Linked DNA regions of Homo sapiens: region 2 is linked to region 1. Evidence: fine-mapped expression QTL. Tissue or cell type: thyroid. Region 1 holds a variant in brackets; the other region holds the start of a gene. All regions are shown on one strand. Distances are from middle to middle.

Region 1 (15,169 bases):
TTGGAGTGCTGTTTGCGTCTGTCCTGTGTTTGCACCTTCCTGTGTCCAGTGTGATCTTCGTCCAGTGGCCATTCTCATAGTTCAGTTCTCAAGGACTGATGCATGCTGCTTAGGGTCAGAACAAAGCACACACAATTTAGGGGTGGGCCCAGGAGTTCATACACAACTTTAAGTGATTGCCTTCCTAAGCTCCTCCTTTTCTGCAATATCTCTGCAACATAGTCCTTTTTCGTTCCCTGAGGCTTTCAAAGAATCTGAGACTTTATTTATTCTGCTGCTACGGCATATTTCTTGTGATTACACTGTGTCTGGGTCCAAGTGGTAGGAAAATGGAGAGAGAGAAAGAAAATGAAACCATCAGGCACTTGCCCCAGGTTCTTAGAATCACAGTTCCTTTGATCAAAGGATTGGAGGGGAACGTTCTCCTTCTTCAAAGAACAGAGAAAAGGAAAGAAGAGAGAAATGGGGGGGGGGGGTTTATTCTTTCTCTGAGCATTAAGAGACTCCTTTTTGCTCCTTGAGCCAGAAATAAGGGGATTCTCCTTAGGGTGTCTCTATTGGCACCAGTACCCTTTTGAGCTGAGTCTGGGAGATGCTGGAGGAAAGAAAGTAAACTCATTGCCATTTCAATGGTAGTTTGAATTGTAGTCTTCTACCCCAGAAGACTTTTCAGTCTTCAAAGAGTTGTTTCATGCATTCTATCCAGGCTTTTCAGTTGCATTCAATGGGAGAGACACGGTGCCTTTACTCTTATCCAGAACAGGACTTGCACCATAATTATTATTTAATATTGTTTTAGACACTGTTGACAATGCAATAAGACATGACACAGAAGTGAGATATAATGATTGCAAAGGAGACAATAGGATCACTATTTGCAAATTCTAATAAGAGGTAACGTTCGCAACCACTAAAGGTATGTCAAGCACGGCCTTTAGATAATTTATATACAGCAGCCCCACCTTATCTGCAATTTTGCTTTCCGATGTTTCAATTAACCTCAGTTCAAAAATATTAAATGGAAAATTCTAGAAATAAACGATTCCTAAGTTTTAAAGTGCATGCCATTCTGAGTGGTGTGATGAAATCTCATACAGTCCTGCTTCATTCCACCCAGGACAAGAATCATCCCTTTGTCCAGAGGATCTACCCTAAGTTACCCACCCACAGTCACTTAGGAGCTGTCTGGGTTATCAGATCGACTGTCATGTATAGGTACCATAGTGCTTGGGTTCAAGCTTATTTTACTTCATACTGGCCCTAAAGGGCAGGAAAAGTGTTGCTGACAATTTGGATATGCCAAAAAGAAGCCATAAAGTGATTTCTTTTTTTTTTTTTTTTTGAGACAGAGTCTTCCTCTGTTGCCCAGGCTGGAGTACAGTGGCACGATTTCGGCTCACTGCAACCTCCGCCTCCCGGGTTCATGCCATTCTCCTGCCTCAGCCTCCTGAGTAGCTGGGACTACAGGCGCCTGCCACCTTGCCCAGCTAATTTTTTTGTATTTTTAGTAGAGACGGGGTTTCACTGTGTTAGCCAGGATGGTATCCATCTCCTGACCTCGTGATCCACCCGCCTCGGCCTCCCAAAGTGCTGGGATTACAGGTGTGAGCCACTGTGCCCGGCCCATTGCCATAAAGTGATTTCTTTAGGTGAAAAGGCGAAAGTTCTCAATTTGATAAGGGGGAAAAAAAAAAAGTATGCTGAGGTTGCCAAGATCTATGGGAAGAACAAATCTATTCATAAAATTGTGAACAGTATATTGTTATATTTGCTTGACTTTACTACTAGTTATTGTTATCAATCACTTACTGTGCCAAATTTAAAAATTAAACTTTATCATAGGTATAAAAACATAGTATAGGAAAAAACATAGTATATATAGGACTTGGTACTATCTGTAGTTTCAGGCATTCACTGGGGGTCTTAGAATGTATTCCCCATGGATAAGTGGGGACTACTGTATATATTAAATCAGATGATCTTCATAATAAACCTATAAAATGGATATTATTATGACCATCTCCATTTCACAGATAGGAAAATTAAGGCCAAAATAAATTATGTAAGTTGTTCAATATCACATAGTAAATTCGTGGAAGGCCCAGTATATTAGACTGGGTAGACCATCAAACTTGTGCCCTTACTCAAAGATGATCAATTGAAAACATGATTGAAAAGAGTAAGAATGAAGCAGGCAAACTCTAACAAATATTGAGATATAATAGAAAGGTATAATAATTAGAATATTTTGGCACTGATACAGAAAGACATATAGATGATCGAGACAACATAGATAATTTCAAAACAGAATCTACAATATATGAGAAATCAATATATACTCAAAAAAAGTACCACACACCAATATGGACAAAAGTAAATTGTTTTGGAATAATTATTTAGCTAGTTAGAGTATGTATAATTATATGTTATAGCATATACCTAAACCAAATTCCAAATATATATATTAAAAATGGGAACATTCAATAAACTAGGGAAGTAGAAGTAAATATTAAATCTCTAAAGGAATTCCTAAGCTTAAAAGTGATAACAGCAATCAATATATTTTGCTCTTTAAAAGATACAAATAATTATACAGAAAACTAAAATAAAATGAAAAAGCCAAAATCTTTTGGGAAAAATGTACACCCAAATATGACAAAGGTTTACTATTATTAATACAGTGATCACATCAATTTTAAGAAAACATTCAGAGCCTATGTAAAGGACATACATATATTTCTTTCCTTATTAAAAAATTAGACACAAAAATTCAACATTTTAAAAAGCACATTGAAGCTACACCATAATGTCACATGAGCTTTAAAAAGTGATAAAATCTCACGACACTGAAGTCTTTGATATAAAACTGTAAAATGGTTAAAAAGCAAAACAAAAAACATTTTAGACACTGGGTTCAGGATGTGTGTGAAGATTCTTAAGAATGTAATTACAATTTTGATCAGTAACATTTCTGAGACTGTATGTCAAAAAATTAATTCCAGATAGGGGGAAGTGGTGATATATAAATGTTCATTGGAGTGGTTTTTTTTTTTTTGGTTAATGAATGGAAGAAATCTAAATTTAAAACCACAGGAAATTAACTAAGTCGATTATATAATATCCATTTTATAGAAAACTGTATCATCAATAAAACTGTGTCTACAAATAGCTTACAATAACATAAAAACACATAATCTAATGAAAAAAGTCTAATCATATACATAATAATTGCAAGTATGTGAAAAAATATATACAGGCCAGCTCAGTGGCTCATGCCTGTAATCACAGCACTCTGGGAGGCTGAAACAGGAGGATTGCTGAATCCAGGAGTTCAAGACCAGCCTGGGAAACACAGTCAGACTCCATCTCTAAAACATAAACCACCCAGGTGTGGTGGTGTGCACCTGTAGTCCCAGTTACTTGGGAGGCTGAGATAAGGGGGATCGCTTGAGCCTGGCAGTTCGAGGTTGCAGTTAGCCATGACTGCACCATGGCACTCCAGCCTGAGTGACAGAGAAAGACCCTGCCTCTAAAACAAAACCAAAAAGCAAAAACCTCCCAAATTCAACCAAATACTGTAAACCAAAAGTCCAGAAGAAAACTACGCATAATACTAAGGTTGGAAAGAACCTTATGCTACTATACGTTCATAGTGTTTATCTTTCATTTTTCTTAATTTCTATTTTTCTGCATTTTTCAAATCTACATTAAAAATACATTATTTTTATATTTTAAAATAAGTTAAAGAAAAACAACCATCCTTTGCAACAAAAAATATCCCAACAAAATTCTTTTGTGCATTTGGAAGAATTAAATATGAACTCACATGTCCACCTAAACCCTTGTTTTTTAAGAGCATGCATAGAAAAGAAGTGTTTTTACTAAGATGTCATGACATCAGCTTAATAAGGGAATAAACAGATACCTAAGCATTAGCACTTCATACTTTTTAGAATGAATAGGATATTTTTGATAATAAAACCTTCCAAATAAAACGCAGTGTCTTTATTGTTTTCAAGTTCAGGCTTGGTATACCCTAGCAGAGTTACAAATGGCATGTCACATTTTATGTAATAATATGATTCTACTCTATTTTAAAAACTCCTTGCTTAAAAATTGAACTCAGGTCAACAATTTAAAACAAAGTCTGGGCAAACGTTTTGATTCTTGGCCCACATTAGTGGTGCTAGACATCTCAAGAATAGCAGTTTTGCTCAAATGTGAGAACTTCCAAAGAGTGTTGGTGCAGCAGCAGAAAATGCCTGCAAAGTGTCAATCTCTGCTCTGATCACCAAGAAGACAGCAATCTCCTGGGGGCCTAGGGATGCCCTGCTGCAAAACTGGCATTTGGCTTGGAGCAGGTGAGAGCATGCCTACTTGCAGTCATTGGGTCTCTGCAGGATTCAGTCATCACCACACGTGGCTGCCTGGGGCAGGGGGAACTATGGGTCTTGCCAACAGCAGTGAAGGCAAACCTGCCTTTCTGCAGCCTTTTGACATGTAGGTAGTCTCCAATATGATGATGATGTCAACAATTCTTTTACTTTTGTACAGGGATTAATAGTTGCCAATGTCCTCTCAAATGTGATTCCACATGATGCATGTTTTTACATGAATATGTCAGAATTTACGTATTAAATGAGTGCTATCCCTTCAAAAGAGTTACCTTATTTTAATGACACCGTCATCTTTCAAGCCACCTTTGATTCTCTACTTTGGACCCTGATGCCAGAGTATATTGTATATTAAACAAAAATCTTCTCAATGTTAGCAACATCTTGACCTTTAGGGTAGGCTTAATGCTTTTGTAAACAGCTAAAAAGAACAAGCCTTGTGAATAACGTGGACAATTCAGCTACACTCTGAGTGAATTTCAAGGACCACGCAGAACCTCCCTCTTACTGCAAAGGGCTAGTTAAATGCTCAGTCAATGTTTCCTCGAAGAACCAGACTCAAAATATGTTGTTATTGGAGATGGAGGTTTTCCTTGTAAATATCCAGGTGAGATTCTAAAGTCAGGAGGCTGTTGCTTTGCATGACTATAAACTCACAAAAAAGGTTATGTAGACAGTCAATACAAATCATAAAAATATTTTCAGCAAAGGTGGGATCATCAGTGTAAGTTTCTACCCTCGAAGATGACTAGTCATTTGACCGCGTTCCGGTGTATCTCTCTCTCTCTCTCTCTTTTAAAGTAGCCTTCATATTTTATAGTCCCATTATCATAGTAAGAATAACTTATAAAAGATAAGCACTGAATAAATAAATGTTCACTTAATGAAAATTTATCCTCTCAAAAATCCCTAGTTTAAAAAATCTAATAATCTCAACTAGAATTTAAAAAATTCCACTCCCCTCCCCTTCCTCTTTAGAAATCGAGACTTCTGGATATAATTTATCCATTTTTTGATGACTCAGAAGTATCTTTGCAAGCATCAATTACTCATTATGTTTGAAGATGCCGGAAACTATAGCACAAATATGCATAGACCTCCAGAGCATACAGAGATGTGGATATTCTTTGTACCGATGCCGAATGGATCCATATTGCTATTTTGAAAATAATTCCTTTGCTTCCTTTTATCTCCTCCTTAGAGTGGGCCCTTCTCTCATGCCTGAATCTCATACTCTAATACCCCTCTTTCTTTGCAAAATCTTCACTTCTCTGGGAAGAGTAATTAGAATGTCAAATGTTAAAATTGTCTCCAAACTAGGTATGTAGCTATTGAAGAAGAAGCTGGAGAAAAGTTCTGTCTCCTGTTTTCAGCATGAAAGTTGTAATACCTATACAGAATGCCCAGAGACAGTTTTTACTTACTTATATGTCTGCCTGAATTTTGGATAGATGAGATTTCAAATTGCAGCCTCTAAATAAGTGAGGTGTCACTTAGAACCTATTTGATACACGGAGAAACCACAACTCAGAAAGCTTCGCAGCAGAGCTGGGACTACAGTCCCTGTCTCCTGCGTCTTGCCAATCCTTTCTGCCTTCAGGCCTAGGTCTGTGCTGTTTCATCTAACTTGAATGTCCCACCCCTTGCTCACCTTGCCATCTCCTCTCCACGCTGCATGGACCGATATGTCAGGTGTCAGCTCTCTCCCCTCCTCTAGCTCTGTCCTCCTTAAAAACCTGTGATCACACCGGAATAACATTCAAGCCCTTTTGGCTGGCATGTCTCCTCCCCATTATCCATTTTATTTCTGCCTCCCTGAGCACTTTAGACACAGAGGACTGGGAACCTGCAAACTCAGCCCCGCCCAGTCCCCACGCCAATCCCAGCGGAGGCAAGCAGAGACGGAACTGGCAGAGGGTGGGTGCTTCTTGATGTAAGCTTGGTATTTACGGGAGCTAAAACTCACTGACTTAAAGTCTTCCCCCAACTTCCACTCATTCTGTTCATGAAACAGAACATCTGTCTCATCTTCCTGATTTTTCCTCCAGATCCCTTGCTGAGACGGGGACCATCACTGGTGTGGCAGCCCGCTGCTTGGAATCTCCATCCTCCTTCTCCTCTTGGAGGAAAGAGAAGGGAGTGTGTGGATTGTTTTATTATATGTTATTATTACCACCTTACAGATGAAGAAACAGGAGTTCAGGGAAGTCAAATTACTTGTTGGAGGTCACAGAATGTAGGAGCTGCCTGTCAGAAAAGGAACTTCTCCTATCTATAGAAATTTGACTCCCAAACTTACTCCAAGCTGAGGGTACTACCTTCAAGCACAACTTACTGAATTTATCATCCCACTGCTTACACTTCCTTGTTTTCACACCTAACCTATCACATCAGCCTGCTTGGATATCAATTAGATAAAAATTAATGCCTCAGCTGGGCGTGGTAGCTCACACCTGTAATCCCAGAACTTTGGGAAGCTGAAGCCAGAGGATGGGTTGAGGTTAGGAGTTCGAGATCAGCTTGGGCAACACAGTGAGACCCTGTCTCTACAAAATATATAAAAAAGATTAGCTAGGTGTGGTGGCTTGTGCCTATAGTCCCAGCTACTTGGGAGGCTAAGATAGGAGGATCGCTTGAGCCCAGGGGTTCGAGGCTGCAGTGAGCTCTGATCATGCTACTGCACTCCAGCTTGGAGAACAGAGTGAGATTTTGCCTCTAAAAAATAAATTAATTAATACCCAATACCTCCATGGACACTATGGATACTGTAAACTAGACATCTGACTACCTACTGTGAAGGTCAGCGCAACTACAAGGTTCTCCTTTTGCCCTTATTACCTAGTCCCAGATACCTTGCCTTTTGTGCAGACAACCTGCTGAGGTTTCAAGCATATCTTATGCTTTTGCCCAAGCTGGAAGCCAACACTTTCTACCTTAATTTTAATTATTGCCCCATGCTTGGCTTCAGCCAAATGGAACTAATTGCTCTCCTACCTGCATCTGCTATGTTTTTCTGTCTCCTTACCTTTTTATGTTTGCTCTGCTAAAATGCCCTTAACAATGCACCATCAGCCACCTCTCCTCCACTAGCCCATCCCAAATCTCTGCACATCTAAATCCCTTTATCTTTAAGGTCTGGTGCATACACCTTCATCTCCATGAAGCCCTTCCTTAAACACCCTTGTACTCTAGCTAGAAGCAAATGA[C/T]GTCTATTTCACCTCCCAGAGTACTTTATTTGTACTTCTCCTGGAGCACTTTCCCAGAATTCAAAGGCAAACATCATATTGTACAAATCAGCTGTGTCAGCAAGAGTCATAAAAGAATGTTGCTTTTGCCTGTCATTGTTCCTCTAAGCCTGATCCAAGGGGTTGGTTAGCTCTTTCTCCTGCCTCTGATGAAAACTACTATTTTCTGACCACTCCTAGTTAAGAAAAAGTTCTATTTTCACAGTAGGTTACAAAACACAGTCTGATTTCAGAAATTAGGATGGATGTCCAGCCCAATATTCATTAGCACCTGAATCATCACTGAAAGCTAACATTTCATCATTTTACAGCCATGGCTGCCCACAGGCAAATGGGTGTCTTCAATATAAAGAATATGTTTGGCTGTCTCTTTCTGTCTATGTCCATTCTCCTTCACTCACTAGTTGCTGTTTTGATCAGCTTCCATCCCCAGGGTTGAAGTAAAGAAGAGAGATAAGAGGAATAGGCAAGACATTTTTTTTTTTTTTTTTGAGACACAGTCTCGCTCTGTCGCCCAGGCTGGAGTGTAATAGTGCAGTCTTGGCTCACTGCAACCTCTGCCTCCTGGGCTCAAGTGATTCTTCTGCCTCACCCTCCCCAGTAGATGGGATTACAGGTGCACTCAACTCTGCTTGGCTAATTTTTGTATTTTTAATAGAGACAGGGTTTCACCATGTTGTCCAAGTTGGTCTCGAACTCTTGACCTCAAATGATCCACCCGTCTCAGCCTCCCAAAATGCTGAGATTATAGCATGAGACACCGTGCCTAGCCAAGATCTTTTTTGACTAATAGAATCATGACAGCTTAACCAATATTTAACACTGATCCTTTCTCTAAGACTACTTTGTGCGGGTTCCTCAGAGATTCTCCTACTCTTTTCATTCTTGTTAAGCAAGCAGTCTGAATTCAGCTGGTTGCTTCTTTCTCAGCCCCTAGGGATCTAGGCTCCACTTAAAGGTTTTCTCTCCTGAGGTTCCATTTTTTTTTTTTTCTCTCAGTGGCCATATTAGATGCATCCTCATTCTTCTAAGAAACAAGCTCCTGCTGGCTGATTTCAACCAGCAACAACTTTCCTTTGCTCTTGCCATCTGAATAACTAGCCAGTTAGGGTGTAACTTCCTCCAGATTTCTCATGTTTGAGTCATCAATCCACATCTACCCTCTTCCAGCTCCAGGAGGTATGTGTCAAGTTCTCAAAATGGTACTGTTGAAGTCAGTCTTCTTAGCATTTAGGTGAGGCGGCAGACAGCCCCCCAGCCTCATCCGGTGTCTTTTTGAAAATAGAAATTATCCTCACGAAATCCTCTCTTAACCTTCACTCTTGGGGGCCATATATCCTCTTTATGCTGACAAATGTTTCATGTATAGAACCCATTCTTGATATTCCGCTGGAAATTGGCACCTTGGTCTGGTACCTCACTTTGGAATTTCATATCTATTAGAACTGGGAGCCTCAGTAGAAATTTTCAATTTAACATCCCGGTGCACAGCTAGAAAACAGTTTACAGAGAAACTGCTCCTTTAGAAGACTGGGTCCTGCCGGAGGGCAGAGACAATGTCCGATTCATCTTATATTCCTCGTAGCCTCTAAAATTGAGCATGTTCTCTCATAGGCAATATGTAGCTATAGCTCTCTGAAATGGACACACTTGGTCTTGTATTTTCTTACAGCGACTGGCATTCAGGACCAACCACAGGGCTATTTTTTCACACACCTTATTAACTCCAACTCAAAATTATTGATGATGTGACAGACTGCTCTGTGTTAATCAAATCCTATTTTCTTTTCGTCTTTCAGCCAGCTGGGTTACATTTTTCAGCCTCCCTTGCAGTTAGGTGGGACTGTGTGACTGAGTTCCAGCCAATGGGATGAAGGCAGAAGTGAGGTACATCACTGTCAAGTCTGGACCCAGAAGACCTCCCAGGCAGTCCTTCGTGATTTTCTACCATGGGTGGACTGCAGGCAGAGAAGGTGGGGGCCCTCAAAATAGCAAAGCCATATGTTATAAGTAGCTTGGGTCCCTGAATGAGTGCATGGAGCAGAACCTCATGCTGTATTCATCGGACCATCATTGAACTATGCTGTGTGTAATAACCACACTTTTATAGTGAGAAGTCACTGAAACGTGGAGATTGTTTATGGTGATTATGTCTACTAACACAGAGGGCTAGACTCTAATGATACACTTCTAAAATCAAGCTAAGGAAATTCTTCGAGGAACTTTTTATTAACTCCCCAGAGAACATGCCAAAAGTTTATTTCCTCAGCTTCCAGGTACACAATCTATTCCTTTCTATGATAGTTTCCATGCCCCCACTAAAATGCATTTCATCATTCTTTTTGGATTAAATGATTTCATTTTTAGTTCAAAGAAACCTAGAACAATTATTTCCTTCTTTTTATCATTTTCTCGGGCCTGTAGGCAAATAATTCATTTTTAATTAGAAAATTGTTATGGGATATAAAGATGTACAGCGGGCATAATTATGGGACGCTAACTTACAGACTTGTCTCTTTTCCAAAGGGCTGCAGTTCAGGATATGGTAGGCTGTATTTGTGGAGTAGGAGAAAGATAAGTTCATTCAACCATGCATATTAAATTACAAGACTTGGAATCACTATTTTTGTGAAAATGTTTTCTCCATATTGTGTTCATTCTGACATTCTTTTCAGATTTTCAAAATAACGGTTCCATTTGGCCTTTAAATAACACAGGATGGGTAAATGTTGTTGGTGAAAGAGATGAAGCTCCAAGGTTGAATTTGAACATCTTTGCTTCAGTGTTCCCAGGTTAAAAATACCTCGAAAGAAACACCACGTAATCGAAGAACAGCAGAGCTATTATGGATGAATGTAAAATCCTAGGTCTGAAGAGTTTAAAATAGTCTTCAAATCCACCTTGGATCTCAGTATGTTAATGCTATTTTTAATAAAATAGAAGGAAAGTGATTTCATATCTTCAACAAGTATGTTTCAATATTCAGTAATGCTGAGCTGTAATAATTCTTTAACTAAATCATTTATGTAGTAATCTAAAGATATGTATTTTTATTCCCCCTGGAGGAAGAACTGTAATCACTATCTCACCAATCTTTACAAACTTTAAATTTTTATCTTTTAAGTATACCAAGGAAAGTTAGAGGCTTGTGCCCATAGATTAAAAGGCGTCAGTTTAAAGTCATGTCTACCAATTGGCCTTTGAAATCTAGAGGTAACCATAAGATAGCCAGAGATTTTATAAAGAAGTTGCTGGAAAAGTTAATGATGGTGACGAATTATATGGTACTGAACACATATTCCAATCACAGTAAATTTGATAGTTATTGAGAACTTACTATATGGGAGTCATGAGGTGCATGAAAAGGTAATTCCAATCGGCATTATTCTGATTTTTATGAGCAGCTGAATAATACATCTGTTTGGGATAGTTCCTGGATATTTATTTCTTGACATTTTTTCAATTAAGAATGCAGGAACTCCATAGTACTCTATCAACTCTATATTCCAGGCATACATTTGCTAGTTCATTTTACATATGGAGTTGGATACTACCATCATCATTAACTGCTTTGATACAGATTATGCAAAGTAAGGATTCATTGATGCACACAAAAAGATGCTACAGGACATGAAACTTCATAACTGCCTTAAAATAGCCTATAATCTGGTTCCAGGAAAATAATAAAACATGGCATGCCCAATGCATGCCAATCACACATGTTTTTACATAGGAAATCGTGATGCTTGAGTTATATATAATACATTTGAAGCTAGTAGCACTTCAAATAACCCAGTAGCCCAGGAGCTTGAGGTTGCAGTGAACTATGATTGCGCCATTGCGCTCCAGCCTGGGAGACAGAGTGAAACTCTGTCTCTAAATTAATAATAATAATAATAACCCAATAGCCCAATCTAGGAAGTTTTCATTGAAAGGTTGAGTTATAACTTGTACACTGAAGGAGGAAAGGATGTGAGTAAAAAGGTTTTTCTGTGAGAGATGGCAGAAGCAAATGGTGAACAAGTTTCTGAAGAATATGCATATACTAAGGATGAAGGTCTTATTAGGAAAGGAGGAAGGGGGTACAGGAAGTCAAAGGTTATGCGGGACAGGGGATGTGGGCAGAGACACATGCAGCCTATGATCATGAATCTGGCCCTTGATCATGAGAGACACATGAGGCCTAAGATCATGAATCTTAATCAAAATAATAATAAGTCAATGGAATGGCATAAAAAGAATAAAGAAAAAAAGAACTCTGTGAAAAACTGAGAAGTGGATGGTCCACTGGACAGGAGGAAAGGGAATTCACATCAAGTTTCTAGGAATGGGTAAGAGGCAATTATAAAGTAACTGAAATAGATTAGTTGAAATGATCAGATACAGAGATATAGGACAAGAGATAACAGAGTCATATGGTAGGGAGGTGTCATACAGTAGCAGAGTCATATGGTAGGCTGTTTAAAATCAAGATTAATCATGAGAGTGGCAGGAGTCCTATTGATTATGAAGTATAACTGTTCTAGAGTTAAAAATTAATGATTATATACTTTAAAGACATTTGAATTATTTATTGAATATATATTTATACTCACTTATGCCACTTAGAAGTATGAAGTCTATAATATACCAATGACCAAATGAGACCTACAAGTGTCCTTTCAAACATTAATGCTAAGATCTTAGGGAGTAAGTATAACTCCTACCCCTGATTTTAGCAATTTACTAATTCTAATGATGTTATTTCTCTGATGCCCTTGAGTAGATACAATAAATAACAGGTAATGACTATAAGTTTTTCATCCTGGCTCTCCTCTAATCCACATAATGACTCTATTACACTGCAGTAAGGCACATAATTGAAAGTATAAATTAAAAGACAAAGATAACAAAAACCTTCGGGTAGAACTATCTGCATCAGCATTTTCTGTACATAGTAGGAGGTTAGTACCTTTCTGCCTAGCTCAATATGGCCCACTTCCAGCATTTACTTCATCCCATATGACTTCAGGTGAGAAAGGATTACTACCCTATACAAAGAGGGAAAATATTTCTTTGTTAGGGAAATGCACTCCGACTAAACTTTAGCTGAAGTAGGGTTAATTCTGATTCTCTTGAAAAGAGGTATGCAGCCTTTAACAGGGCCATTGAGGGCCTTGGCTACGAGAGCTTAGGTAATAACACTAAAAATGCAATGTACTTTAGCTAAGAATTATTAATGCCAGTTTATGAAAGTAGAAAATGAAACTATTCATTCTTATTTATCTCAAGTCTTTGGCCCTGCCTGCTCCCAGTTCAAGCTTGATAAACTATGAACTTGCAGCTCGTCTTAATGGGTGGTAGAAGACTGTGCTCCATTTCTCCTGGGACTTCATGCTCATTAGTCACAGACGTCAATTAAAAGCTTTGTTAGAGAACCAGAGGAATGTGCCACAGCACATGTAGAGGCCCGGAAGCCCCTTTCACTTCTAACATGGATGAATGAGTCCCCATGGCATGCGAAGCTGCACATCAATAGGTCGTGTGCATCAGCAGACAGGATCAACAAAAGCAGCGCAAAAATGTTGAAGTCAGCACTTTCTGGAGCCAGCCCTATTCATTCCAACTGATAAGGATTTAAACATTTTCATTAGCTTTGCTGATCCCAGTTATTTAAAATGACAAACACATTATCATTATTTTTAAAGCAAGTTACATAATCTAGGGTGCAACCCAGGCTTGATAATTTTCTAAAAATGATTATTGACCCTTGCATCCTCCTCCTGCAACCATGAGGGGTCGAATTGAGGTTAATGTTCTGGCAAATCCCTTAGGATCCAGACTAACAACTGTTTTGGAAGAGATTATTGCCATTGTAAACCACTGACCAGGGCCTGAGATGGTAATTCTTAATTAAGAAAATAAAAAGATTCAGCGTCTCCGCTCTCATCATGCAGCTAACAACAGACTCCGCCTCAATCCAAACACAGAATAAAATTCAGCAAAGGATGGATTTTAAAAAATAATTTGTTGTAGATACTTAATCTAAAATAATTTGGTGAGGCTTCAGAAATAACTTTGGGTATTGAGTATGAGAAGAATATTTGCAATATTGTTCTTTTTGTATGTGTGTGAATTCTTTGTTTTTATTCCAATTGTGTCTTATTGCTGACTTATTACTAACATGTTGCTTCCAAAGAGAATTTTAGGGCAAAACATTTCAAAATTACAGGATGTTCAAAGGAAGTAATAAAAGTTTCCAACAGTGGGTATTGTGAAATATGTCATGTTATACAATATTCGATAACTTACATTCTTTTTAATCAACTAATTATTTTGTTTGCTAATGTACTCTTTGACATGTCATAAAAATTATGTGGACAATGAGATCTGAGAAGCATTAACAGCAGAGAATAGAGTCCCCATCATATCTGTAAAGCTGCTGGGGTCCTATGGTGAGTAGCAGAAAGAAAAACTGGAGTGCATTGTGAAAATCTTGGACTACTTTGATACTCAGAATTTGATTACAAAGCTGTACACCGGCTGTAAAAGGATTTGTCAGGAACATGTCTCAAGGCAGTAGAAAAATCATAGGATTCCAGGGATAGAAAGGGCTTTGGACTTTTATTATAACTTTTAAAAAGTCTCTTCTAGTCTCTCAATAAGGAAAAGCAAAAGACATTTGCACGATTTCAGAAAATACTCTGTTTCTCTGCAATATACTCCCTGAAAATTTTTTCAAGGTAGGATATAAACCCTCCCCAACCCCACCCTATCTTTTCTCAACACACCAGGCTGTGGCTGCATTTATTTTAAAAGTCCAAAGGAACACAAATCCCCAAAGGTTATACTGTAAGGCATTCAGGGTTACATTAGTTTAATACTTTTCAAGCTGGTTTTTGGACAGTCTACATTTGGACAGAAGCTAGCAGGAAAGTTTTGCATGGAGAATATGATTTGTTTTAGGTCAAAAGGTCAAAGTAGAACTTCTTGTTCTGCTTTTTCTTTTTCTTAAAGAACCTGATAACTTTCCTACTATAACCACTTAGAAATAACTGACAAAAAGACATTTTTTCAAGTGTTTTATTGGACTTGCAAAAAGAGAAAGAGAGAAAGCAAACAAAAAGAGAGACCCAGGTGTAAGGTACAGAGACCTAAGAGCAGTGTGGTAAGATACAAACTGATATTGATCTGCATTAAGGGGACTTAATGGGTCTCAGTGACCTAGAAGCTTAGGTTTAGATTCTTATGTAGTGGACATAAGAGGATAGTGAAAAGTGTCCAAATAAATGGGCACCATAATGATGCCTATCTGTTTCTATCTAGATGCCAAGTGAAGGGAAGAGACAGTATCACTCAGAATTTATAACCAGGGCTATGTGGGTGGTTCAGGAATAACTGAATTAAGAAATTAGCCTAAGGATTCACTTAGGACATGAATTAAAAGCAAATTCAAAATGTCTCTGAAGGGCTAGCTATATCCAATCTGGCTACATATTTGTATACAGTATTCCCCATTGAAGATGAGCTCATAATCCCAAATTACAAATT
Region 2 (15,169 bases), 74 kb before region 1:
TTCCACAGCCATGTTGTCAGAGATCTGAGCCTGGCCAACTCCTCATTATCCACATGAATAGAGAAAAGCTCAAGTGTGGATTATCCAAGTCATCAAAACAGAAATACAATTCGATTTCTTGTTTGGAATGCGCTTTGGTGTTAACATTTAAATATGGGTGTGTCTAGCTGTTCGCTATTCTGGGAATCCTTGTCAAACAAAATAATGAAGCTGTAGCATGAAGGCAAGGCTTGGGCTTGCTGAAAGGCAGTCCTGTTTCCCTTTCCTGCCCCTCCCAGCCTCTGCAGAGCCCAGGGCAACTCCTCCTGGGAGCTCACTTCAAGCAGGGCAAAGAGCAACATAGGAGCTTAAAGCCGAGCAAAATCCCTGGAACATTCCCTGGAGAAGTGAGGACAAGGCAGGCAGAAATGCTAAAGGGACACTCTTCAGGAATCCAAGGAGCTCCCAGGCTAGGATTTGGCATTCTGGAAAGAAAGCATAGAAAGTAGGGGCTGGGGCAGACACCAAACACGCAGAGGCTCATGGAAGATGGGGCCTCCTCAAGGAGAAAGCCGCACTGCAAGTCCGGCAGGCAGGCAACTGCAGGCGCTGCCAAGGCCAGCTTCTTTGCCACAACTCGGGTTACTCTGGCTGGGTCAGCTGACCTGCAGCAAGGGATTTGGGGCCTTGCACCACTCAGGCATTCCACACCTGCTCCAGAGCCAGCAACAGTGCTGATGGCTTCCCTGAGATCCTATTCCTGGGTCAAGATTAGGTAGGCCACAGACTCTTAGGGAAGGCATCCCTCACTTCTTTCTAGTGGCTTCTGGTTAGCTGTCTCCTTCTCAATTGTGCTGAGAAGCTCTCTTGTCATAGGGAGCATCATAGGGAGTTGCTGTTTGGTCTGGTTGTACAACCTCTCTGGGTGTACCGTGGCAGAGACAGCCCTATGTGTTCGACCAGAACGCTCTTCTGCTGCACACAGAGGAAGACCACATTTTCCAGCCATCTCCATCTCACTGGGTCCTTGTACTAATTCCAGTCAATGTATTGTGGGCAGAAGCCATGTGGGCCACCTTTTGTTGGGGCCCCTAGACCTCCCAAATAACCTTCCACGTTCTCTCTCTCTTTACTCTTTGGCCAGTTGAATACAAAGGATCCAGCAGAACCCTCCAACGCCGTGGGGGATGCCATAGTGACAAGGCAGGAGGAGCCTCATCGGCCACCCAGGAAATCCACCTGGCCACAGAAATCACACTGTGCTGTGTCTGAGTGAACAATTAACCTTAATCATGCAAAGCCACCAAGATTAGAGGGTGGTTACAACAATTAGCCTATCTGATTAATACACATAATCGGTTAGCAGGCCGCAGAATCCTACAGCATCCCTCAGTTTTCAAGCTCCCTTGTTTTTTTTCTTTGTTTGTTTTTAGAAACAGGGTCTTGCTCTGTCACCTAGGTTGGAATGCAGTCATGCAATCATGGCTCACTGCAGCCTCAAACTCCTGGGCTCAAGTGATCCTCCTGCCTCAGAATCTGGAGTGGCTGGGACTACAGGTGCATAGTCACCATGCATGGCTACTTTAAAAACATTTTTTTTTGTAGAGATGGGGTCTCACTATGTTGCCCAGGGTGGTCTAGAACTCCTGGCCTCAAGTGATCCTCCTGCCTCAGCATCCCAAAGTGATGGGGTTAGCTCCCTTGTTACTATCATAATATATATACAAATCAGCACAGAAATTACAGCTGAAACCAGGTCATTATATTCCTCTATAGTACCTTAAAATTTTACCAGTGATGAAGAGGATTTCTGGTATAGATCTTAGACAAAATAGAGACAGGAGCTCCTCTTCCCAGAAAAGCATTCTGTGTCAAGCACTGATTGATTCATTCATTCATTCATACAAATATTTATTGACTGCCTGCTCCCACACTGAAAGGAGTTAGGAGATACAGTGTGAAGTAGATCAAGTCAGACTTAATGCCCTCATAGAGGAGTCCACATTTGAAATAGGCCAACCACAAACAAATCATATAGACTCTAAATGTCATGTAACGGTAAGTGCTTTGAAGAATGAAACGGGATAAGGGTACAGAGACTGAGGGGGCTGTTTTAGAGGAGGCTTCTGCATATCTGATTCCCCAGGCTTGCACTCGATGGGAGGCTGCCAATCAGACAGTGGGGAAGGCAAGCAGGTGGGCTAATAGCACTTCACTTGCATAGAGGTTTCAAGACCTTAGGAACCAGAGCAAAAGCACACACGTCAGGACTGCTGTGGACAGAGTCATCCCAAGGAATGCCTATGCCCCAGGGTCACAATGTAGAGCCCATGGGCTTCAAAGAGAATATGATACAGTTAGATTCATGTTCCACCAATAATTGTTGAGTGCCTACTCCGCAAAGCACACTATGCGCTACACTTCCCCATTGTTATTTACCTGGTAGCCGGGCTATTCAGCCATGGAAGCTTCATTGATTAGAGCTATTCTTAGGGTGATCATATACCCCAGTTTGCCAAAACAGCTCTGGGTTACAACTGTTGTCCCAGTAAAATTATTTGAGTGTTCCCTTTCACTTTCAAAAGGATCTCATTTGGACAGTAAGTTACATGATCACCCTAGGGATCCTTATCTATAGCAGGATAATAAACTCAAAGTCCCAAAGTGGTAAAATTAGCCTTTCATTCAACAAATGATTATTGAGTGCCTTCTACAGTGCCCAGTGAGTGCTCTGTTAGGTTGCCCAGTGCTCTGTTAGGTGCTGGAAATGCAAACGTGAATAAATAAAACATGGTCCTTGCTGTGGAATATCACATTGTCATTGGGTAAAACAGATACACAGGCAGACACAAGAGAGAATGCAATGATAGAAATGAACGTTATGGGTGATGTTAGCATCAGAGATGTTGCTCTCCCTTGCGGCACTCGTGCTCACCGGGAGAACTAAAAATGAAGCCATGCTTCTCTACAGCATCATATTCACCCAGAACTGAACAGGATTTTAAAAATCTAATTTGGATTTTTATTCCACTTTTGCTATTTTTTCCAGCCCTTCCTTCCAATCTCCCTGACCTCTAGATGCTGGACTGCCTCGGGGGGCATCCTTTGGACTTTTTCTTCTGCACACAGATTCAATCTTAGGGGATCTCTCAGTTCTCAGTCTTCCTTCAGCTCTAGTGATTAATATCCAAATTGTAGTCAACATCTCCACTTGGATACCTGATAAACTTCTCAATCCTAATCTATCAAAAGATTGCTCCTCAGAACCTCAAACCATAAACACCCTCTCATCTGTTCTTCGTAAATACTCCCCAACTTAGGCAAATGGCAACTCCGTTCTCCCAGCAGCTTACACCAAAATTTTGGAAGTTGTCTCTGACTCCTCTTTTTCTCTTACATCCCAAGTTGAATCCTTTAGCAATTGCTTTTGTCTTGTCTTGTTTGTCTTTTCTTTTTTCCTCTCCTCTCCTCCCCTCCTCTCTCTTCTTTTTTTTTCTTTTTTCTTTTTCCTTCCTTCTCTTTCTCTCTGTCTTTCTCTCTCTCTTTCTTTCAGAATCTTACACTGTTACCCAGGCTAGAGTGCAGTGGTGTAATCATGGCTAACTGCAGTCTCAACCTCCTGGCTGAAGTGATCCTCCTGCCTCAGCCTCCCAAGTAGCTGGGACTACAGGGCACTATGCCTAGCTAAATTTTTTTTTCTAGAGATGGGGTCTCACTATGCTGCCCAGGCTACAGGAAATGCTTTGGGCATTACCTTCAATATACACCTAGAATCTGCTGGCTTATCACCGCCTGCTAATCACCGCCTGGTCCAAGCTAGCCCTGGTTCTTGCCTCCTTGACTGCAGAAGCTTCCTAAAGGCCTCCCTGCCCTTCCCTCAACCCTACTTGGATTGTGCTCAATACAGCACCCAGTATTACCCCATTTAAAAAGACAAATCCCTTTGTAACTCACCTGGGCAACATAGCAAGACCCCTTCTCTAAAATAAAATAAAATACAATACAATACAATACAATACAATACAATACAATACAATACAATACAATACAATACAACCATGCATGGTGGCATGTCCCAGTAGTCCCAGCTATTTGGAAGCTAAGGCCAGAGGATTGCTTGAGCCCAAGAGTTCAAGGCTGCAGTGAGCTATGATCACACCACTGCACTCCAGTCTGGGTGACAAATGAGACCCTCTCTAAAAAAAAAAAAAAAAAAAAAAAAAAAAAGTAGTCCCACCTGCCAGGAGATTCCCACCTCTTTCAAAATAAAAGCTCTAGTCCTTACAATGGTTTCATGGGCCCTAGGTGATCTGGCCTGGGATTACCTCTCAATCTCTTTTCCTCCCATCCTTCTCCCATGTTCTTGCTGTTCTTTGAAAACATTACATCCCTGCTGTTACCTCTCCTGTCTTTGTTCAAATATCACTTCAGCGAAGCTCTTTCTAATAATCCTATTTACAGTTTCACTCCTTATTCCTTTTCCTGCTTTATTTTTCTCTGTAACCTTATTTCCATCAAATAGGGTTGCCAGATAAGATACAGGACTGCTCAGTTAAATGTGCACTTTACATAAATAATGGAGAAGTATTTTTAACATAAGTATATCCCAAATATGGCATGGGATATACTTATACTAAAAAAAAAAAAATTCACCGTTTACCTGAAATTCAAATTTAGCTGGGCCTCCTGTATTTTTATTTGCTAAATCCAGCAGCCGTGCCATCTAACATGCTATATATTTTATTTATTTGTTCATTGTCTGTCTCTACCAGCTCCCCACCCCCTGAAACTTGGTCCTTACACTGGAAGTTAAATGAAGGCAAGTATTTTTAGTCTGCTTTGTTCACCACTGGATGTCTGGCAGCTAAAACAGTGACGTCTACATAACAGATGCTCAATATTCACTGAATGAATGAATTAGTGAGCAAAGGAGCACACTGTCTCAGGCTGACCATCCTAGCCTCTGAAGCCTCTGAATTGCCCTGATTGTTGGAAAGTCATTTCTTAAATGGATCCCTTTCTAATGGCCCCTCTAGAATCTGAGTCATCTCTTTCAGGACAGGCCCAGAGGTTGAATTCCTGAAGTAGGATCCTGTCCTAGAAAATGGGGGTGGGGGGTTGCGGGGGTCAGGGGGACGAGGTAGCCTTATCTTCCACTGGATGCCACTGACCCCGGTAGCCTGAAGGAGAGTGCTGTGCTTTGGCAGCACGAAGGCAGACACTTCGACAGATGACTGTTCAGACTCAGGGATTCTCCAGCCATTACAAAACTTCAAGTTTTCTGCATTTCACTGGGGGATTTCTATCTCTTGTCATTGTAAGTTCTCCTGACTGGCTTAGCTTTGCATTTTCAGCGTGGATGAGTCATGTGTTACTTCCCTTTCACATTTTCATAAAACACACACCTTTTCCCCTGTGCATAATCCCTACTCCCACGCACAGCACTGCACTCCCGCACGTCTTTTTGTTGTGTACTGGCCCCTGCATGAACCTGAGGGAGGGTGGGGCGGGTGGTCCAGGGCTGTGTGGTTTATGAACATGCTGCCTATAGGATCCCACAGAATCAGCTCTTGGCATCACAGGCATCAGATGCCAGAGAGCAGGGACCTCCTCTGGCCACCCAACCCGGTGCGAAATTTCTTTGGAACAACATAAGCTTCTGGAAATTCCCTACGGAAAAGACAAGTCTATTATAAACACAATTAAAGGGAAACTGCCTGGAGAAAATTTACCAAAATTGTCCAACAACTCCCAAGTTTTGAATTAAAACATAAAAGAAGATCCAGAGTTCTATCTATCACCCAGATGCTCAAGCCCTCCCCTGCTGCTCGGATCTGTAAAATAAAACATGCCTGGTTTCTGTGATTTAACTCTAAAATTCTGCACAAACTTTGCAGCCAGCATGCATCTGCCACATGGAATCCCCCAACCAATGAATGGAAGCTGCGGTCCTAGAGACAGTTTCACAAAAACAGCTCCTTTCTCCCGTGGCTGGAGCCCCGGGGGGAAATGATTAAAAGCTGCTTAGTGATTTATTTGTCATTGCTTAGAGATACAGCTCATGCTGATGGCTCACTGCACTACAAATGTGACATCACCCCACCACCTCTTTTGCTGCTTAAGAAAATCGTGCCAGAGATAAAGTCAAGCCTAAGAAATCACAGTTCTCTATGCTCTACTCAGTTTGGAAAATGTACCATCCCAAGAAATTGCCTTTTTTTTTTTTTTCCTTTGCCGGGTCCCAGAGCTGCAGTTTATAAAAAGCAGCAAGCGGCAAGGGGCACGCGTCCCTGTAACTCCATCTTTGAATGGGTCTGTTACTTACCCTGCATCTGTCTTCTGTCTGCTGAGTAAGGAAGGCACGGCTCACATTTCTGGCTTTCATTTTCTTCCATTGTCTCTGCCTGCCGCAAAAGCTCCTCGCTCTCTGGAAACTTCAGAGCGCAGTTCTAAAAGCTCCCAGAAAGCGCCTGGGAGGGGGCCCGGGGCTGGGGAGGAGGGGACGGTGCGAAACCCCACCCCAAACTATTTTCCACTCCGGTGCAAAGTCTCCCTCGCCCGAGAAAACTGCATTCCAGCGCGGGGCCTCTTGGATCTCCCCTGCCCCTGGCCCTCCGTCCCTAGGTCTGTCCGTCCGTCCGTCCGTCCGTCCTCAGGCGCGCTCTCCGGGGACTGGGGGCTGGGCTCTGCCAGGGCAGGGCGATGCGGGGGTGTGGGGGGGAGGCCTCAACAGGTGACGGCCTCTCCTACCCACAACTGGGCCTGCCTGGTTCCACTGCTGCAAACCACCGAGGCTCTGCAGCCGAGGAAGGAAAACATTTCACACATGATTAAGGCCGAGAGCCTTCGCTGGGAGCCAGTGCCCTCATCTCTTTAATCTCAGAGGCAGAGTGAGCCTCCCAAATCGGGTGATCCACATATTAAAAAACAGCAACCTGTTGAACCTCCCAAATTTCAGTGAACTCCCTTAAAAAAAAATCCCAAACAATTTGAAAGAAAGAGTATATGCTGAGTGTTGTAAGTAAGCACTTTCCGGCACTAACTTTTTAGGGCCCGATTAACATCTATGAAGAGGTATAGCGTCATTTGCACACAGTCGATTTCAATCACTTAATCTGGACTTTTTAAAAAAAAGTTTCTACGTACTTGCTCACTTTCTCAGACTCCTCCCTCCCCCAACACACTTACACACACACACACACACACACACACACCCAGCCCTTAATCACAAATCTGAAAGGTAAACTAGTAAAGTCAATCTTCTGAAGCTCTCCCAGTTAACGACTCCAAAAATCTGAAAGACAGTGAAAATGCATTTCTTTGGACAGGCAGAGTTACAACCAACATACTTCTCCTTTTAAACCACCTACAAATATTTATTTTGTTCTTTACCCAGTCCTTGAAAAACTGGCAGAGTTCCCAGAGAGTGAAAATAGGAGGCATGATGTCCGAAAAAAAAAAAAAAAAGAGGATGGGAAAATAATTTAGGCAACATTAGCTCTGCGATGTCAGATATCTCAGAGTAACACAGTAGCTAGGAGGAAGAGCGCGATTTTGTAACCTGTAGTAGCCCCGTCACAGGAGGGGTAAAAAAGGACAATGGTTAGTCTGGTGACCATACTTTGCCCCAGTTTACAGGGCATTCCAGCAAGGTTTGAGATTGATTTAGATCAAGAATGTGTGCTGAACAATGGCCAGCCTATGTTCCAGATTGTGACCTCGAGTGACCTGTGTGTTTTGGCAGTGGGGGTGACGTATTTTGGCCATTTAAGACATAAGGATGTGGAAGCACCTAACAGACAAAGGATGTAGGCCAAAAGGAAAGGAGACATACCAGGAAGTGAGTTACACTCACGTCAGGAGGGGAAGAAGAGAGCCCCTCAATTCTTAACGGGATTTTTCTTGAAATCCAAGAAGACGCGGTGAATCTTTCAAAAAATTAAAGCAGTGCCTCGGCAGCCTGAATAGAGGCAGTGGGATTTGCAGGGCAGATAACTTAAGGTCTCTATGACTTTGCAACAGAATTACCTGGCAATCTTGCTTTAAGGAGGAACTAATCTTACACAGTTTCTGTCCTGGTGGCCCCTGGGCAAAGGCCAGATGAATCTAGTTTTAACCTTATTATTTCCTTAGGTGCAAAATGTTCATGAAGGAGGGCCCTGCTGTGTTCAGCCTTTCAGGTCCAGATCATCCTGATTCTTGTATACTGTTGTGTATTTGTCTTTAAAGTATTAATGCTAGGAAGAGTGGGGAGGAGGGTGGGAGAAAAGTATGTGTGTGTGTGTGTGTGTGTGTGTGTGTGTGTGAGAGAGAGAGAGAGAAACACTGTAGCAGGAGATGCAGCAGCCCAAATCAGATGTCCCGCAGCCTTTGGTTGTGACCCCAATCCCCTTGCTCTGGTGTCCAGAGAGCCCGTGCTTAACAGCTCCTACCTGTCATTTGGTGTAGCACAAAGGCAAAAACCCCAGGATGAAGGAGGCAGCAGAGGGCTGCCACAGCCGTTGGCAGCCACAAACAGCACCCTGCCCCAGGGCCCTCCTGGCTAGCTCAACCCAGGCAGAAAAGATCCATTGGCAGATGCTGATTAAGATTTCCTGGGGGCTGTTTGGAAGGTGTCAGAGCAGTCTTTCAGGCCTCTGTTGACCCCTAGATGGACAAAAATAGGGAAATGTCTCCCACCAGGTCTGAACTACCATTTTCCAGGCAGCCCAAGGAACCCCCTTGGTCAGCCGACCTTGCTTTCCAGCTGCTAGGACCCTCCCCTCCCCCATACGGGCCAAGCCCACTGCCCTCTCTGCTGATATTCCAGGAAACAAAACTCTGTGATATGCACAACAGAAAAAGGCATTGGGGGAAGAGAATTAACATGAATCATTAAGGATCATGAAACCTAGACATGTATTTATGGTAAAATAATGTTCTTTTGAATGATCAAACTTTCTGACCATTCTATAGGGAAAAGCTTCTATTGGATTACTTACTGGCCTTTTGTTCCTCCTTAAGAAGAGGAACTGAAAACAATTTGAGAAGGCACTCTATTTGCCCTTGCACCGACTATTCCATATCTTTCTCCAAAGCACAGAGACCTTCCTAACAATTTAGCACTGATTGTCAGTGTCTCTGGAAAACAGTAGCTGTATTCTGCAATCTATATAAACCTGGTAACTCCGATCTTCATGAAAATACTCTTATTGTCACTGCTGTTACTGTGGAGATGTTCTTCTTTCTGGAAGAAACACTATTTGAACTAGAAGTAGGTGTATTTCTTTCTGGTTTAATTTAATTTCTGGGCTTAAAAATTGCTATTACATTGCAATCTGCCTACTGCTATACTTTGAAATTTGCTGTGAAAGGCATAAGGAAAGCGGGAAGAACTTGAAATCTGATTTTCCTCCAGTCATATAAAGAACTAGAATAATAATAATACCAGGAGGCTAAGTTTTCAACTCCGTTTCTGTTAACAGGGAAAGGTGCAAGACTATTTCTTGGTTAGTGGTTCCATATGTTGCAATTCATGACTCAAAATGAGCTACCACATAAAACAAATGTCATTTAAAAGGAAAGACAAGTGACGAGATAAAAGAGTGCTGTAAAGACAAATGGTGATTTTGCAGTCATAGCTAACCCGTTACAGAACTGGACCATTATTGGTGTTGATAACGCAACGTAAATGGCATTCACCATAAAGAGAATTAATCACAAAAATCGTAAACAATTGCATATGATTTCTCAGCAGGCCAATTATAGGGTTGTGGAAAGCATGTCAACTTCCTTCATGTAAATTTTTCCTTTTTTCCTTCTTTCCTTTTTTTTTTTGAGACAGCATCTTGCTCTGTCACCCAGGCTGGAGTGCAGTGGCATGATCTCGGCTCACTGCAACCTCCACCTTCTGGGTTCAGGTGATTCTCCTGCCTCAGCCTCCCAAGTAGCTGGGACTACAGGCACATGCCACCACGCCCAGCTAACTTTTTGTATTTTTAGTAGAGATGGGGTTTCACCGTGTTAGTCAGAATGGTCTCGATCTCCTGACTTTGTGATCTGCCTGCCTCGGGCTCCCAAAGTGCTGGGACTACAAGCATGAGCCACCGCGCCCGGCATTTTTTCCTTTTTTTTGAGACGGAGTTTTGCTCTTGTCGCCCAGGCTGGAGTGCAATGGCGCGATCTCGGCTCACTGCAACCTCTGCCTCGAGGGTTCAAGCAATTGTCCCGCTTCAGCATCCTGAGTAGCTGGGATTACAGGCATGTGCCACCACGCCTGGCTTTTTTTTTTTTTTTTTTTTTTTTTTGTATTTTTAGTAGAGACGGGGTTTCACCACATTGGCCAGGCTGGTCTCGAACTCCTGACCGCAGGTAATTCGCCCACCTTGGCTTCCCAAAGTAATCACGCTGGGATTACAGGCGTGAGCCACTGTGCCTGGCCTATGTAAGTTTTTCAACAGAGAAATCATTGCAAGAACCAAGAGTAAGTGGAATTGCCCTGATACATATTTAATATTTTTTCACTTTAAATCCTATTAAGAACCAGATAGTTGAAAATGACTTGACATCAGGACACAAAAGAAATAATTAATGCTTGCTGAAGTCCTTAAAATGTACTTTTCAAAGGCATTCATAACTGTGAGAGTCAATTAAAACAAAGTGAAAAACAAAGAAGTCAACAAAAGTGTTTCAACCAGAGGCCTCGTGTTTGATGTGTTCCACATTAACTGTTTCTAAAAGACAGGCTGCTATGGTATGAGGCCCTGTAAGTCAGAAATAAAGGATTTTTAACAACTGGGATAACATTTGCTTAAATGGATGATCTGGCGCATGTGAAATGTGGGCTCTCCAATCCTAGTTTTGACAGCAATGTGTCAGGTGGTTAGGGTGACCTTATACTTAGTATAAACCAGCATTTGTGAGAGGGAAAGTAGACACTATTAATAATTACAACTGGACAATAAGACACCACGACTGTCCCTGGCAAACCAGCACAGATGGCCACCTATGTGTGATCCCAAGATAAGCCCTCTGGGCGCCTTAGGTTTCCAAATGTGAGGGGAACATAATGATACTGTTTGAGTTTCCCAACAAAGACCCTATAAAAGAATCTGAAACAATAATTAAAAAATAATTAATCTTAAACAATAATTAGAGCAAAGGTGTGAGCCTCACACGGACCGTATTACAAGCCCCACTAACAAACAATTTCGCAGATTCCATAGTATAATACATTTCTATATGACTCATAGATCAAAACAGAATTTTCCCTTCTGCGTTAAGAGCAACAATTTCACCAGGTAACCTCCAGCATTCTCTCCAGAGGGTAACCAATCTTCCCTTACTTAAAGTCCTTAAAATTCCAGTGGCTCCAAGGAGATCCTGCCAGACAATAAGTGAGGTGCCCAGGAGCCCCTCGCCACCCACCAACACTCAAATCTCCCTATGAAATGTCTTGGAACTCTCCTGCTACTCCACACAAATTCCTCATGTGGTCATATGATGTGAAACTACACATAGATCCAATGTGTTAATACTTTAAGCATATTTGCTTTCTTTTTAAGAGAACCCATTGATGTTGGTTTTTATTATGGTTTCTTTTATCTATTTTAAGTTGGAAGATAGATGCTGGGCAGCAAAGACCCCGTGTGCACAGCACTGTGGCCAGAGCTGGCATCTGTGCAGCATACCGTCTTGAAAGCCCCGCTCAGCTCTGCCCTCTGGTCACTGCAGACAAAGTCTGGATTCCAGGTGGCAACTTATAAGTGAAAAGTGTAACATGTATCTGCTCACCCCTTTTATCCCAGAGGGAGCAAAACCATGGCATATTTCCCAGAGTTCCTGAAGGGCCAGGGTGGAATCCACGAGAATATGAGAGCTTCTACAGATACAAGCACCTGGGTTGCTACCTTGCTTTACCCACAGTGCCTCATTATCAACCCTTTCAATAGAGTATTTGGGGGAAAGAGACTCTCCTGGCTTATTTTCTGCCCTTGAGCTTCTCCTCTGCCATTTCTCAAAGCTGCAGTGACCTGTGGAGGTGGGGGTTGGGGGGTAGGGGGAGCAAGAAGGAAGGGGAACCAATCAAGTTGCCAAAACTAGGATCATGGAGTACACTTCTCCCTGTTTCCCCCACCAACATCCCCCAACTTTGCTGCTGAACAAACTGACTCCTGGAGCATTCTCGAACGTGTGGCTCTCATCTCTCCCATCTTTCTCGTCTCCAGGGTCCTGTTCAGCCTTTGCTCTGTTATACTTGATGAATACCTTAGGATCTTTTATCCTCTTTTTTCACTACTGAAGTCCAAGGCAATTGTCCAAGGCGACCCCTCAATCATCAATATTATTTTTATTATTTTGCTAGATGGAAATGAAGAATAAAAGGGGAGGTATCTCTCTTCTTCTTCTTTCTTTTTTTTTTTTTTGACAAGTTTTTACTCCACCACCCAGGCTAGATTGCAGTGGTATGATCACAGCTCACTGCTTCAACTTCTTGGGCTCAATCAATCCTCTACCCTCAGCCTCCCAAGTAGCTGGGACTACAGGCACACTCCACCATGCCTGGCTAATTTTATATTTTTTTGTAGACATTAGGTCTCACTATGTTGCTCAGGCTGGTCTTGAACTCCTGGGCTCAAACAATCCTCCAGCCCTGGCCTCACAAAGTGTTGAGATTACTGTCATGAGCCACTGCCCCTGGCCCGGTATACCTATTTTCTAAAATTCCTCTTCTTTCAACTATAGAATTGGGTCTGGTATTATTTGGGGGGCATTGCTGTAAGAGCCCTAAGGCATCATGCAGTTCGGCCATAGATATTTATCAAAGTCTCCCTGCAGCTGGGCGCCTGCTCTAGTCACTGAGACCTCTAGTCTGTAAGCTAAGACTGTGATGCCAGGGACCTCCCTGGGGGGCAGGGCTTCCAGGAGGATGAGGCCAAAGATGGAAACCACCCTCAGAGCAGAGGAGACGTGGAGCTGCTAGGATAGGGGAAAGCGCCTGTGAGGGGAGCTTGGGAGCAAGGGTGCAACCAGAGCACAGCCTTTGGGCAACGGTGCTCATGAAGGCTTGGGGGCCGTGGTGCAGCCCAGGGTGGAGGGTGGAGGCTCCGAGAACAGGGCCCTGCAGGTCACCCTGATGCAGGAGAAGGAGAAGCCTGTGACTGGTGTCTTGGAGTCCTGGCAGGGATTGCCTGTGCCCAGGGAGTTTCCTGACCGCTCTCTCCCCTGAGCTTTGCTCTCCTCTCCCCCTACCTTTGGAATTCAGAGCTCCTCACCTTCCCTCCCAGGGCCAGCGAAACAAGTGAATTGCCCTGATCACTTTGATCACCTCTACTGGCTTCTCTGCCAAATAAACACTGAAATTGACTTTGTTTCAACAACGCAGCTAGTTTTATTTTGTTTTTGTTCCACTTTTTCATCAGTTCTCAGCCTCCGGTTGAGTGATGGCCATAGGCTTTAAGAGAAACAGAGACACAGATGTTACAGAATGAAAGGCGCAGTGCAAATACATTCACCTTTCCATGTCACCCCCGGGAGGCTGACAGTCCTGCAGCCACACCTGGAGCTGAGGGGGTCACCCAGCACCCGGGGCTGGGCCGCCTGCCTGCGTGCAGCCTGCACTCCCTCGGGGGTCTCAGAACACCAGGAAGAATTGGGAATGGGGTGCTGGATAGGAGGATCAGGGGTGATCAGGAGGTTGGGGGCGCTCGAGAGGGGTGTCCAGAGACTCAAAGGGCTCACTGTAGCCCCTGCTTTGCCCTGAGCCATGCCTCCAACTTCTTCAAGTGCCTCACCCTCGAGTTTATAGAATTCTTGAAAGCCAGTCACGTGCTTCAGAAGTTAAGTATTTTTACAGTGATTTTATTTTTCTCTCCCCACCTCAGTCCACAGAATTGAAGGTGGGGCGGAAGCAGAGGCGGGGTAGGGCAGGGTGGGGACTTCTGTTCCTTGCAGATGGAAAAACAGTTTTAATACAGAAGGACTAATTTCTGGAGCCAAGTGGGTAGAGGGGGTGCTGGCATGCAGGAGGTAGAGGAAGCCCTCCAGGATTTACAAAGTATTGATGGCTAAGCTTCTCTGCCCTAAGCCGAAGTGCATTTTGTGTTTCTCCCCAGGGCTGCTAGAGCTTAACATTCTTCATTTCCCAGATGACATCGTTTTGCTTTGTAAACACTCCCTTTTGCAAAATTTACAATCTCTGAACTGGACAATATTGAGTGGGATAAAATATTTAATGACTGGTTGGGCCAGGGTTTCCATAACACTATATTAGGAGCCTAATTTGTGTAACGCTTGAGTTCATAAAAGTAAAAAAGGTGCAACGAATTTTTTTGTTTTTTGAGATGGAGTTTTGCTCTGTCACCCAAGCTGGAGCACAGTCTTGGGAACTTGGCTCACTGCAACCTCCGCCTCCTGGGTTCAAGCAATTCTCCTGCCTCATCCTCCGTGGTAGCTGGGATTACAGGTGCGTGCCGCCACGTCTGGCTAATTTTTGTATTTTTGGTAGAGACAGGGTTTCACCATGTTGGCCAGACTGGTCTCGAACGCCTGACCTCAGGTGATCTACCCACCTCAGCCCCCTAAAGTGCCAGAATTACAGGTGTGAGCCATGGCACCCAGCTGCTGCAATGATTTTTAAAATTGTTTCTGCTTGCCCCCTACTGCCACCTCTCATCTGCACATACCTTCACCCAACATGTTCAGCAGCAGCACTGATACAAACTGGTGTGGAAAATGGACTACAGGACCTGATGATATTCCCAGGCTCACTCTGCTCACAGGCCCCTTCTGAGAAAGGCAGCTGGGGATGCTTCCTTTCATCACCCCCAAGCTTGACTGGTGCAATCAGTAGGCTCAGCTGGAAGAGCTCAGATGCTCCCCGGGTTGGACAAGGGACAAAGAGATCCAGTCAGATTTCCCCTCTTCTCCTTTACAGAATTCGAATATGAAATATATAGCGAAGGGATACAGGTGGCGTCACCAAACATCCCAGTTCACCTATGACTTTGGGTGTGGCCTGGTGCTGAAACTGGAAAAGTCCCAGGAAAACTGGGTTGAGTTGGTCACCCCAGATGCAGGCAGTATGGCAGGCGAAAGCTGAGGTGCACAAAGACAGCAAGCATAGCCAGGTGGTGCAGTGGCACAGTGGCTCAGTGGCATGGTGGCTTGGTGACTCTTGTCTGTAGTCTTAGCTACATGGGAGGCTGAGGTG

Direction of the effects. Positions count from the first base shown, and alleles are read on the strand shown. Sizes are in standard deviations (SD) of each study's normalised expression.
For the expression in thyroid of the gene that starts at base 6,430 in region 2, C is the high allele of the variant in region 1 and T is the other (moderate effect, 0.64 SD a copy in GTEx).

Evidence for each region. PIP is the estimated chance that this variant, and not a neighbour inherited with it, causes the effect.
Region 2: it holds the start of KIAA1217, and the variant in region 1 is fine-mapped to the expression of KIAA1217 in thyroid (GTEx, PIP above 0.99).

What each region holds. Positions count from the first base shown.
Region 1 is chr10:24,126,533-24,141,701 of GRCh38, reverse strand. It overlaps a transcript of KIAA1217 not described here. Among named protein-coding and RNA genes, the nearest start is that of KIAA1217, 75 kb to the left of the region's middle. The variant C/T (reference allele first, on the strand shown) is at 7,601.
Region 2 is chr10:24,200,399-24,215,567 of GRCh38, reverse strand. It overlaps KIAA1217, which reads right to left and starts at 6,430. Exons shown (of 21, transcript NM_019590.5): 1 at 6,305-6,430. The coding sequence starts at 6,374. RefSeq lists enhancers at 571-1,159, 5,612-5,671, 5,045-6,244, 12,561-13,326 and a silencer at 5,962-6,011.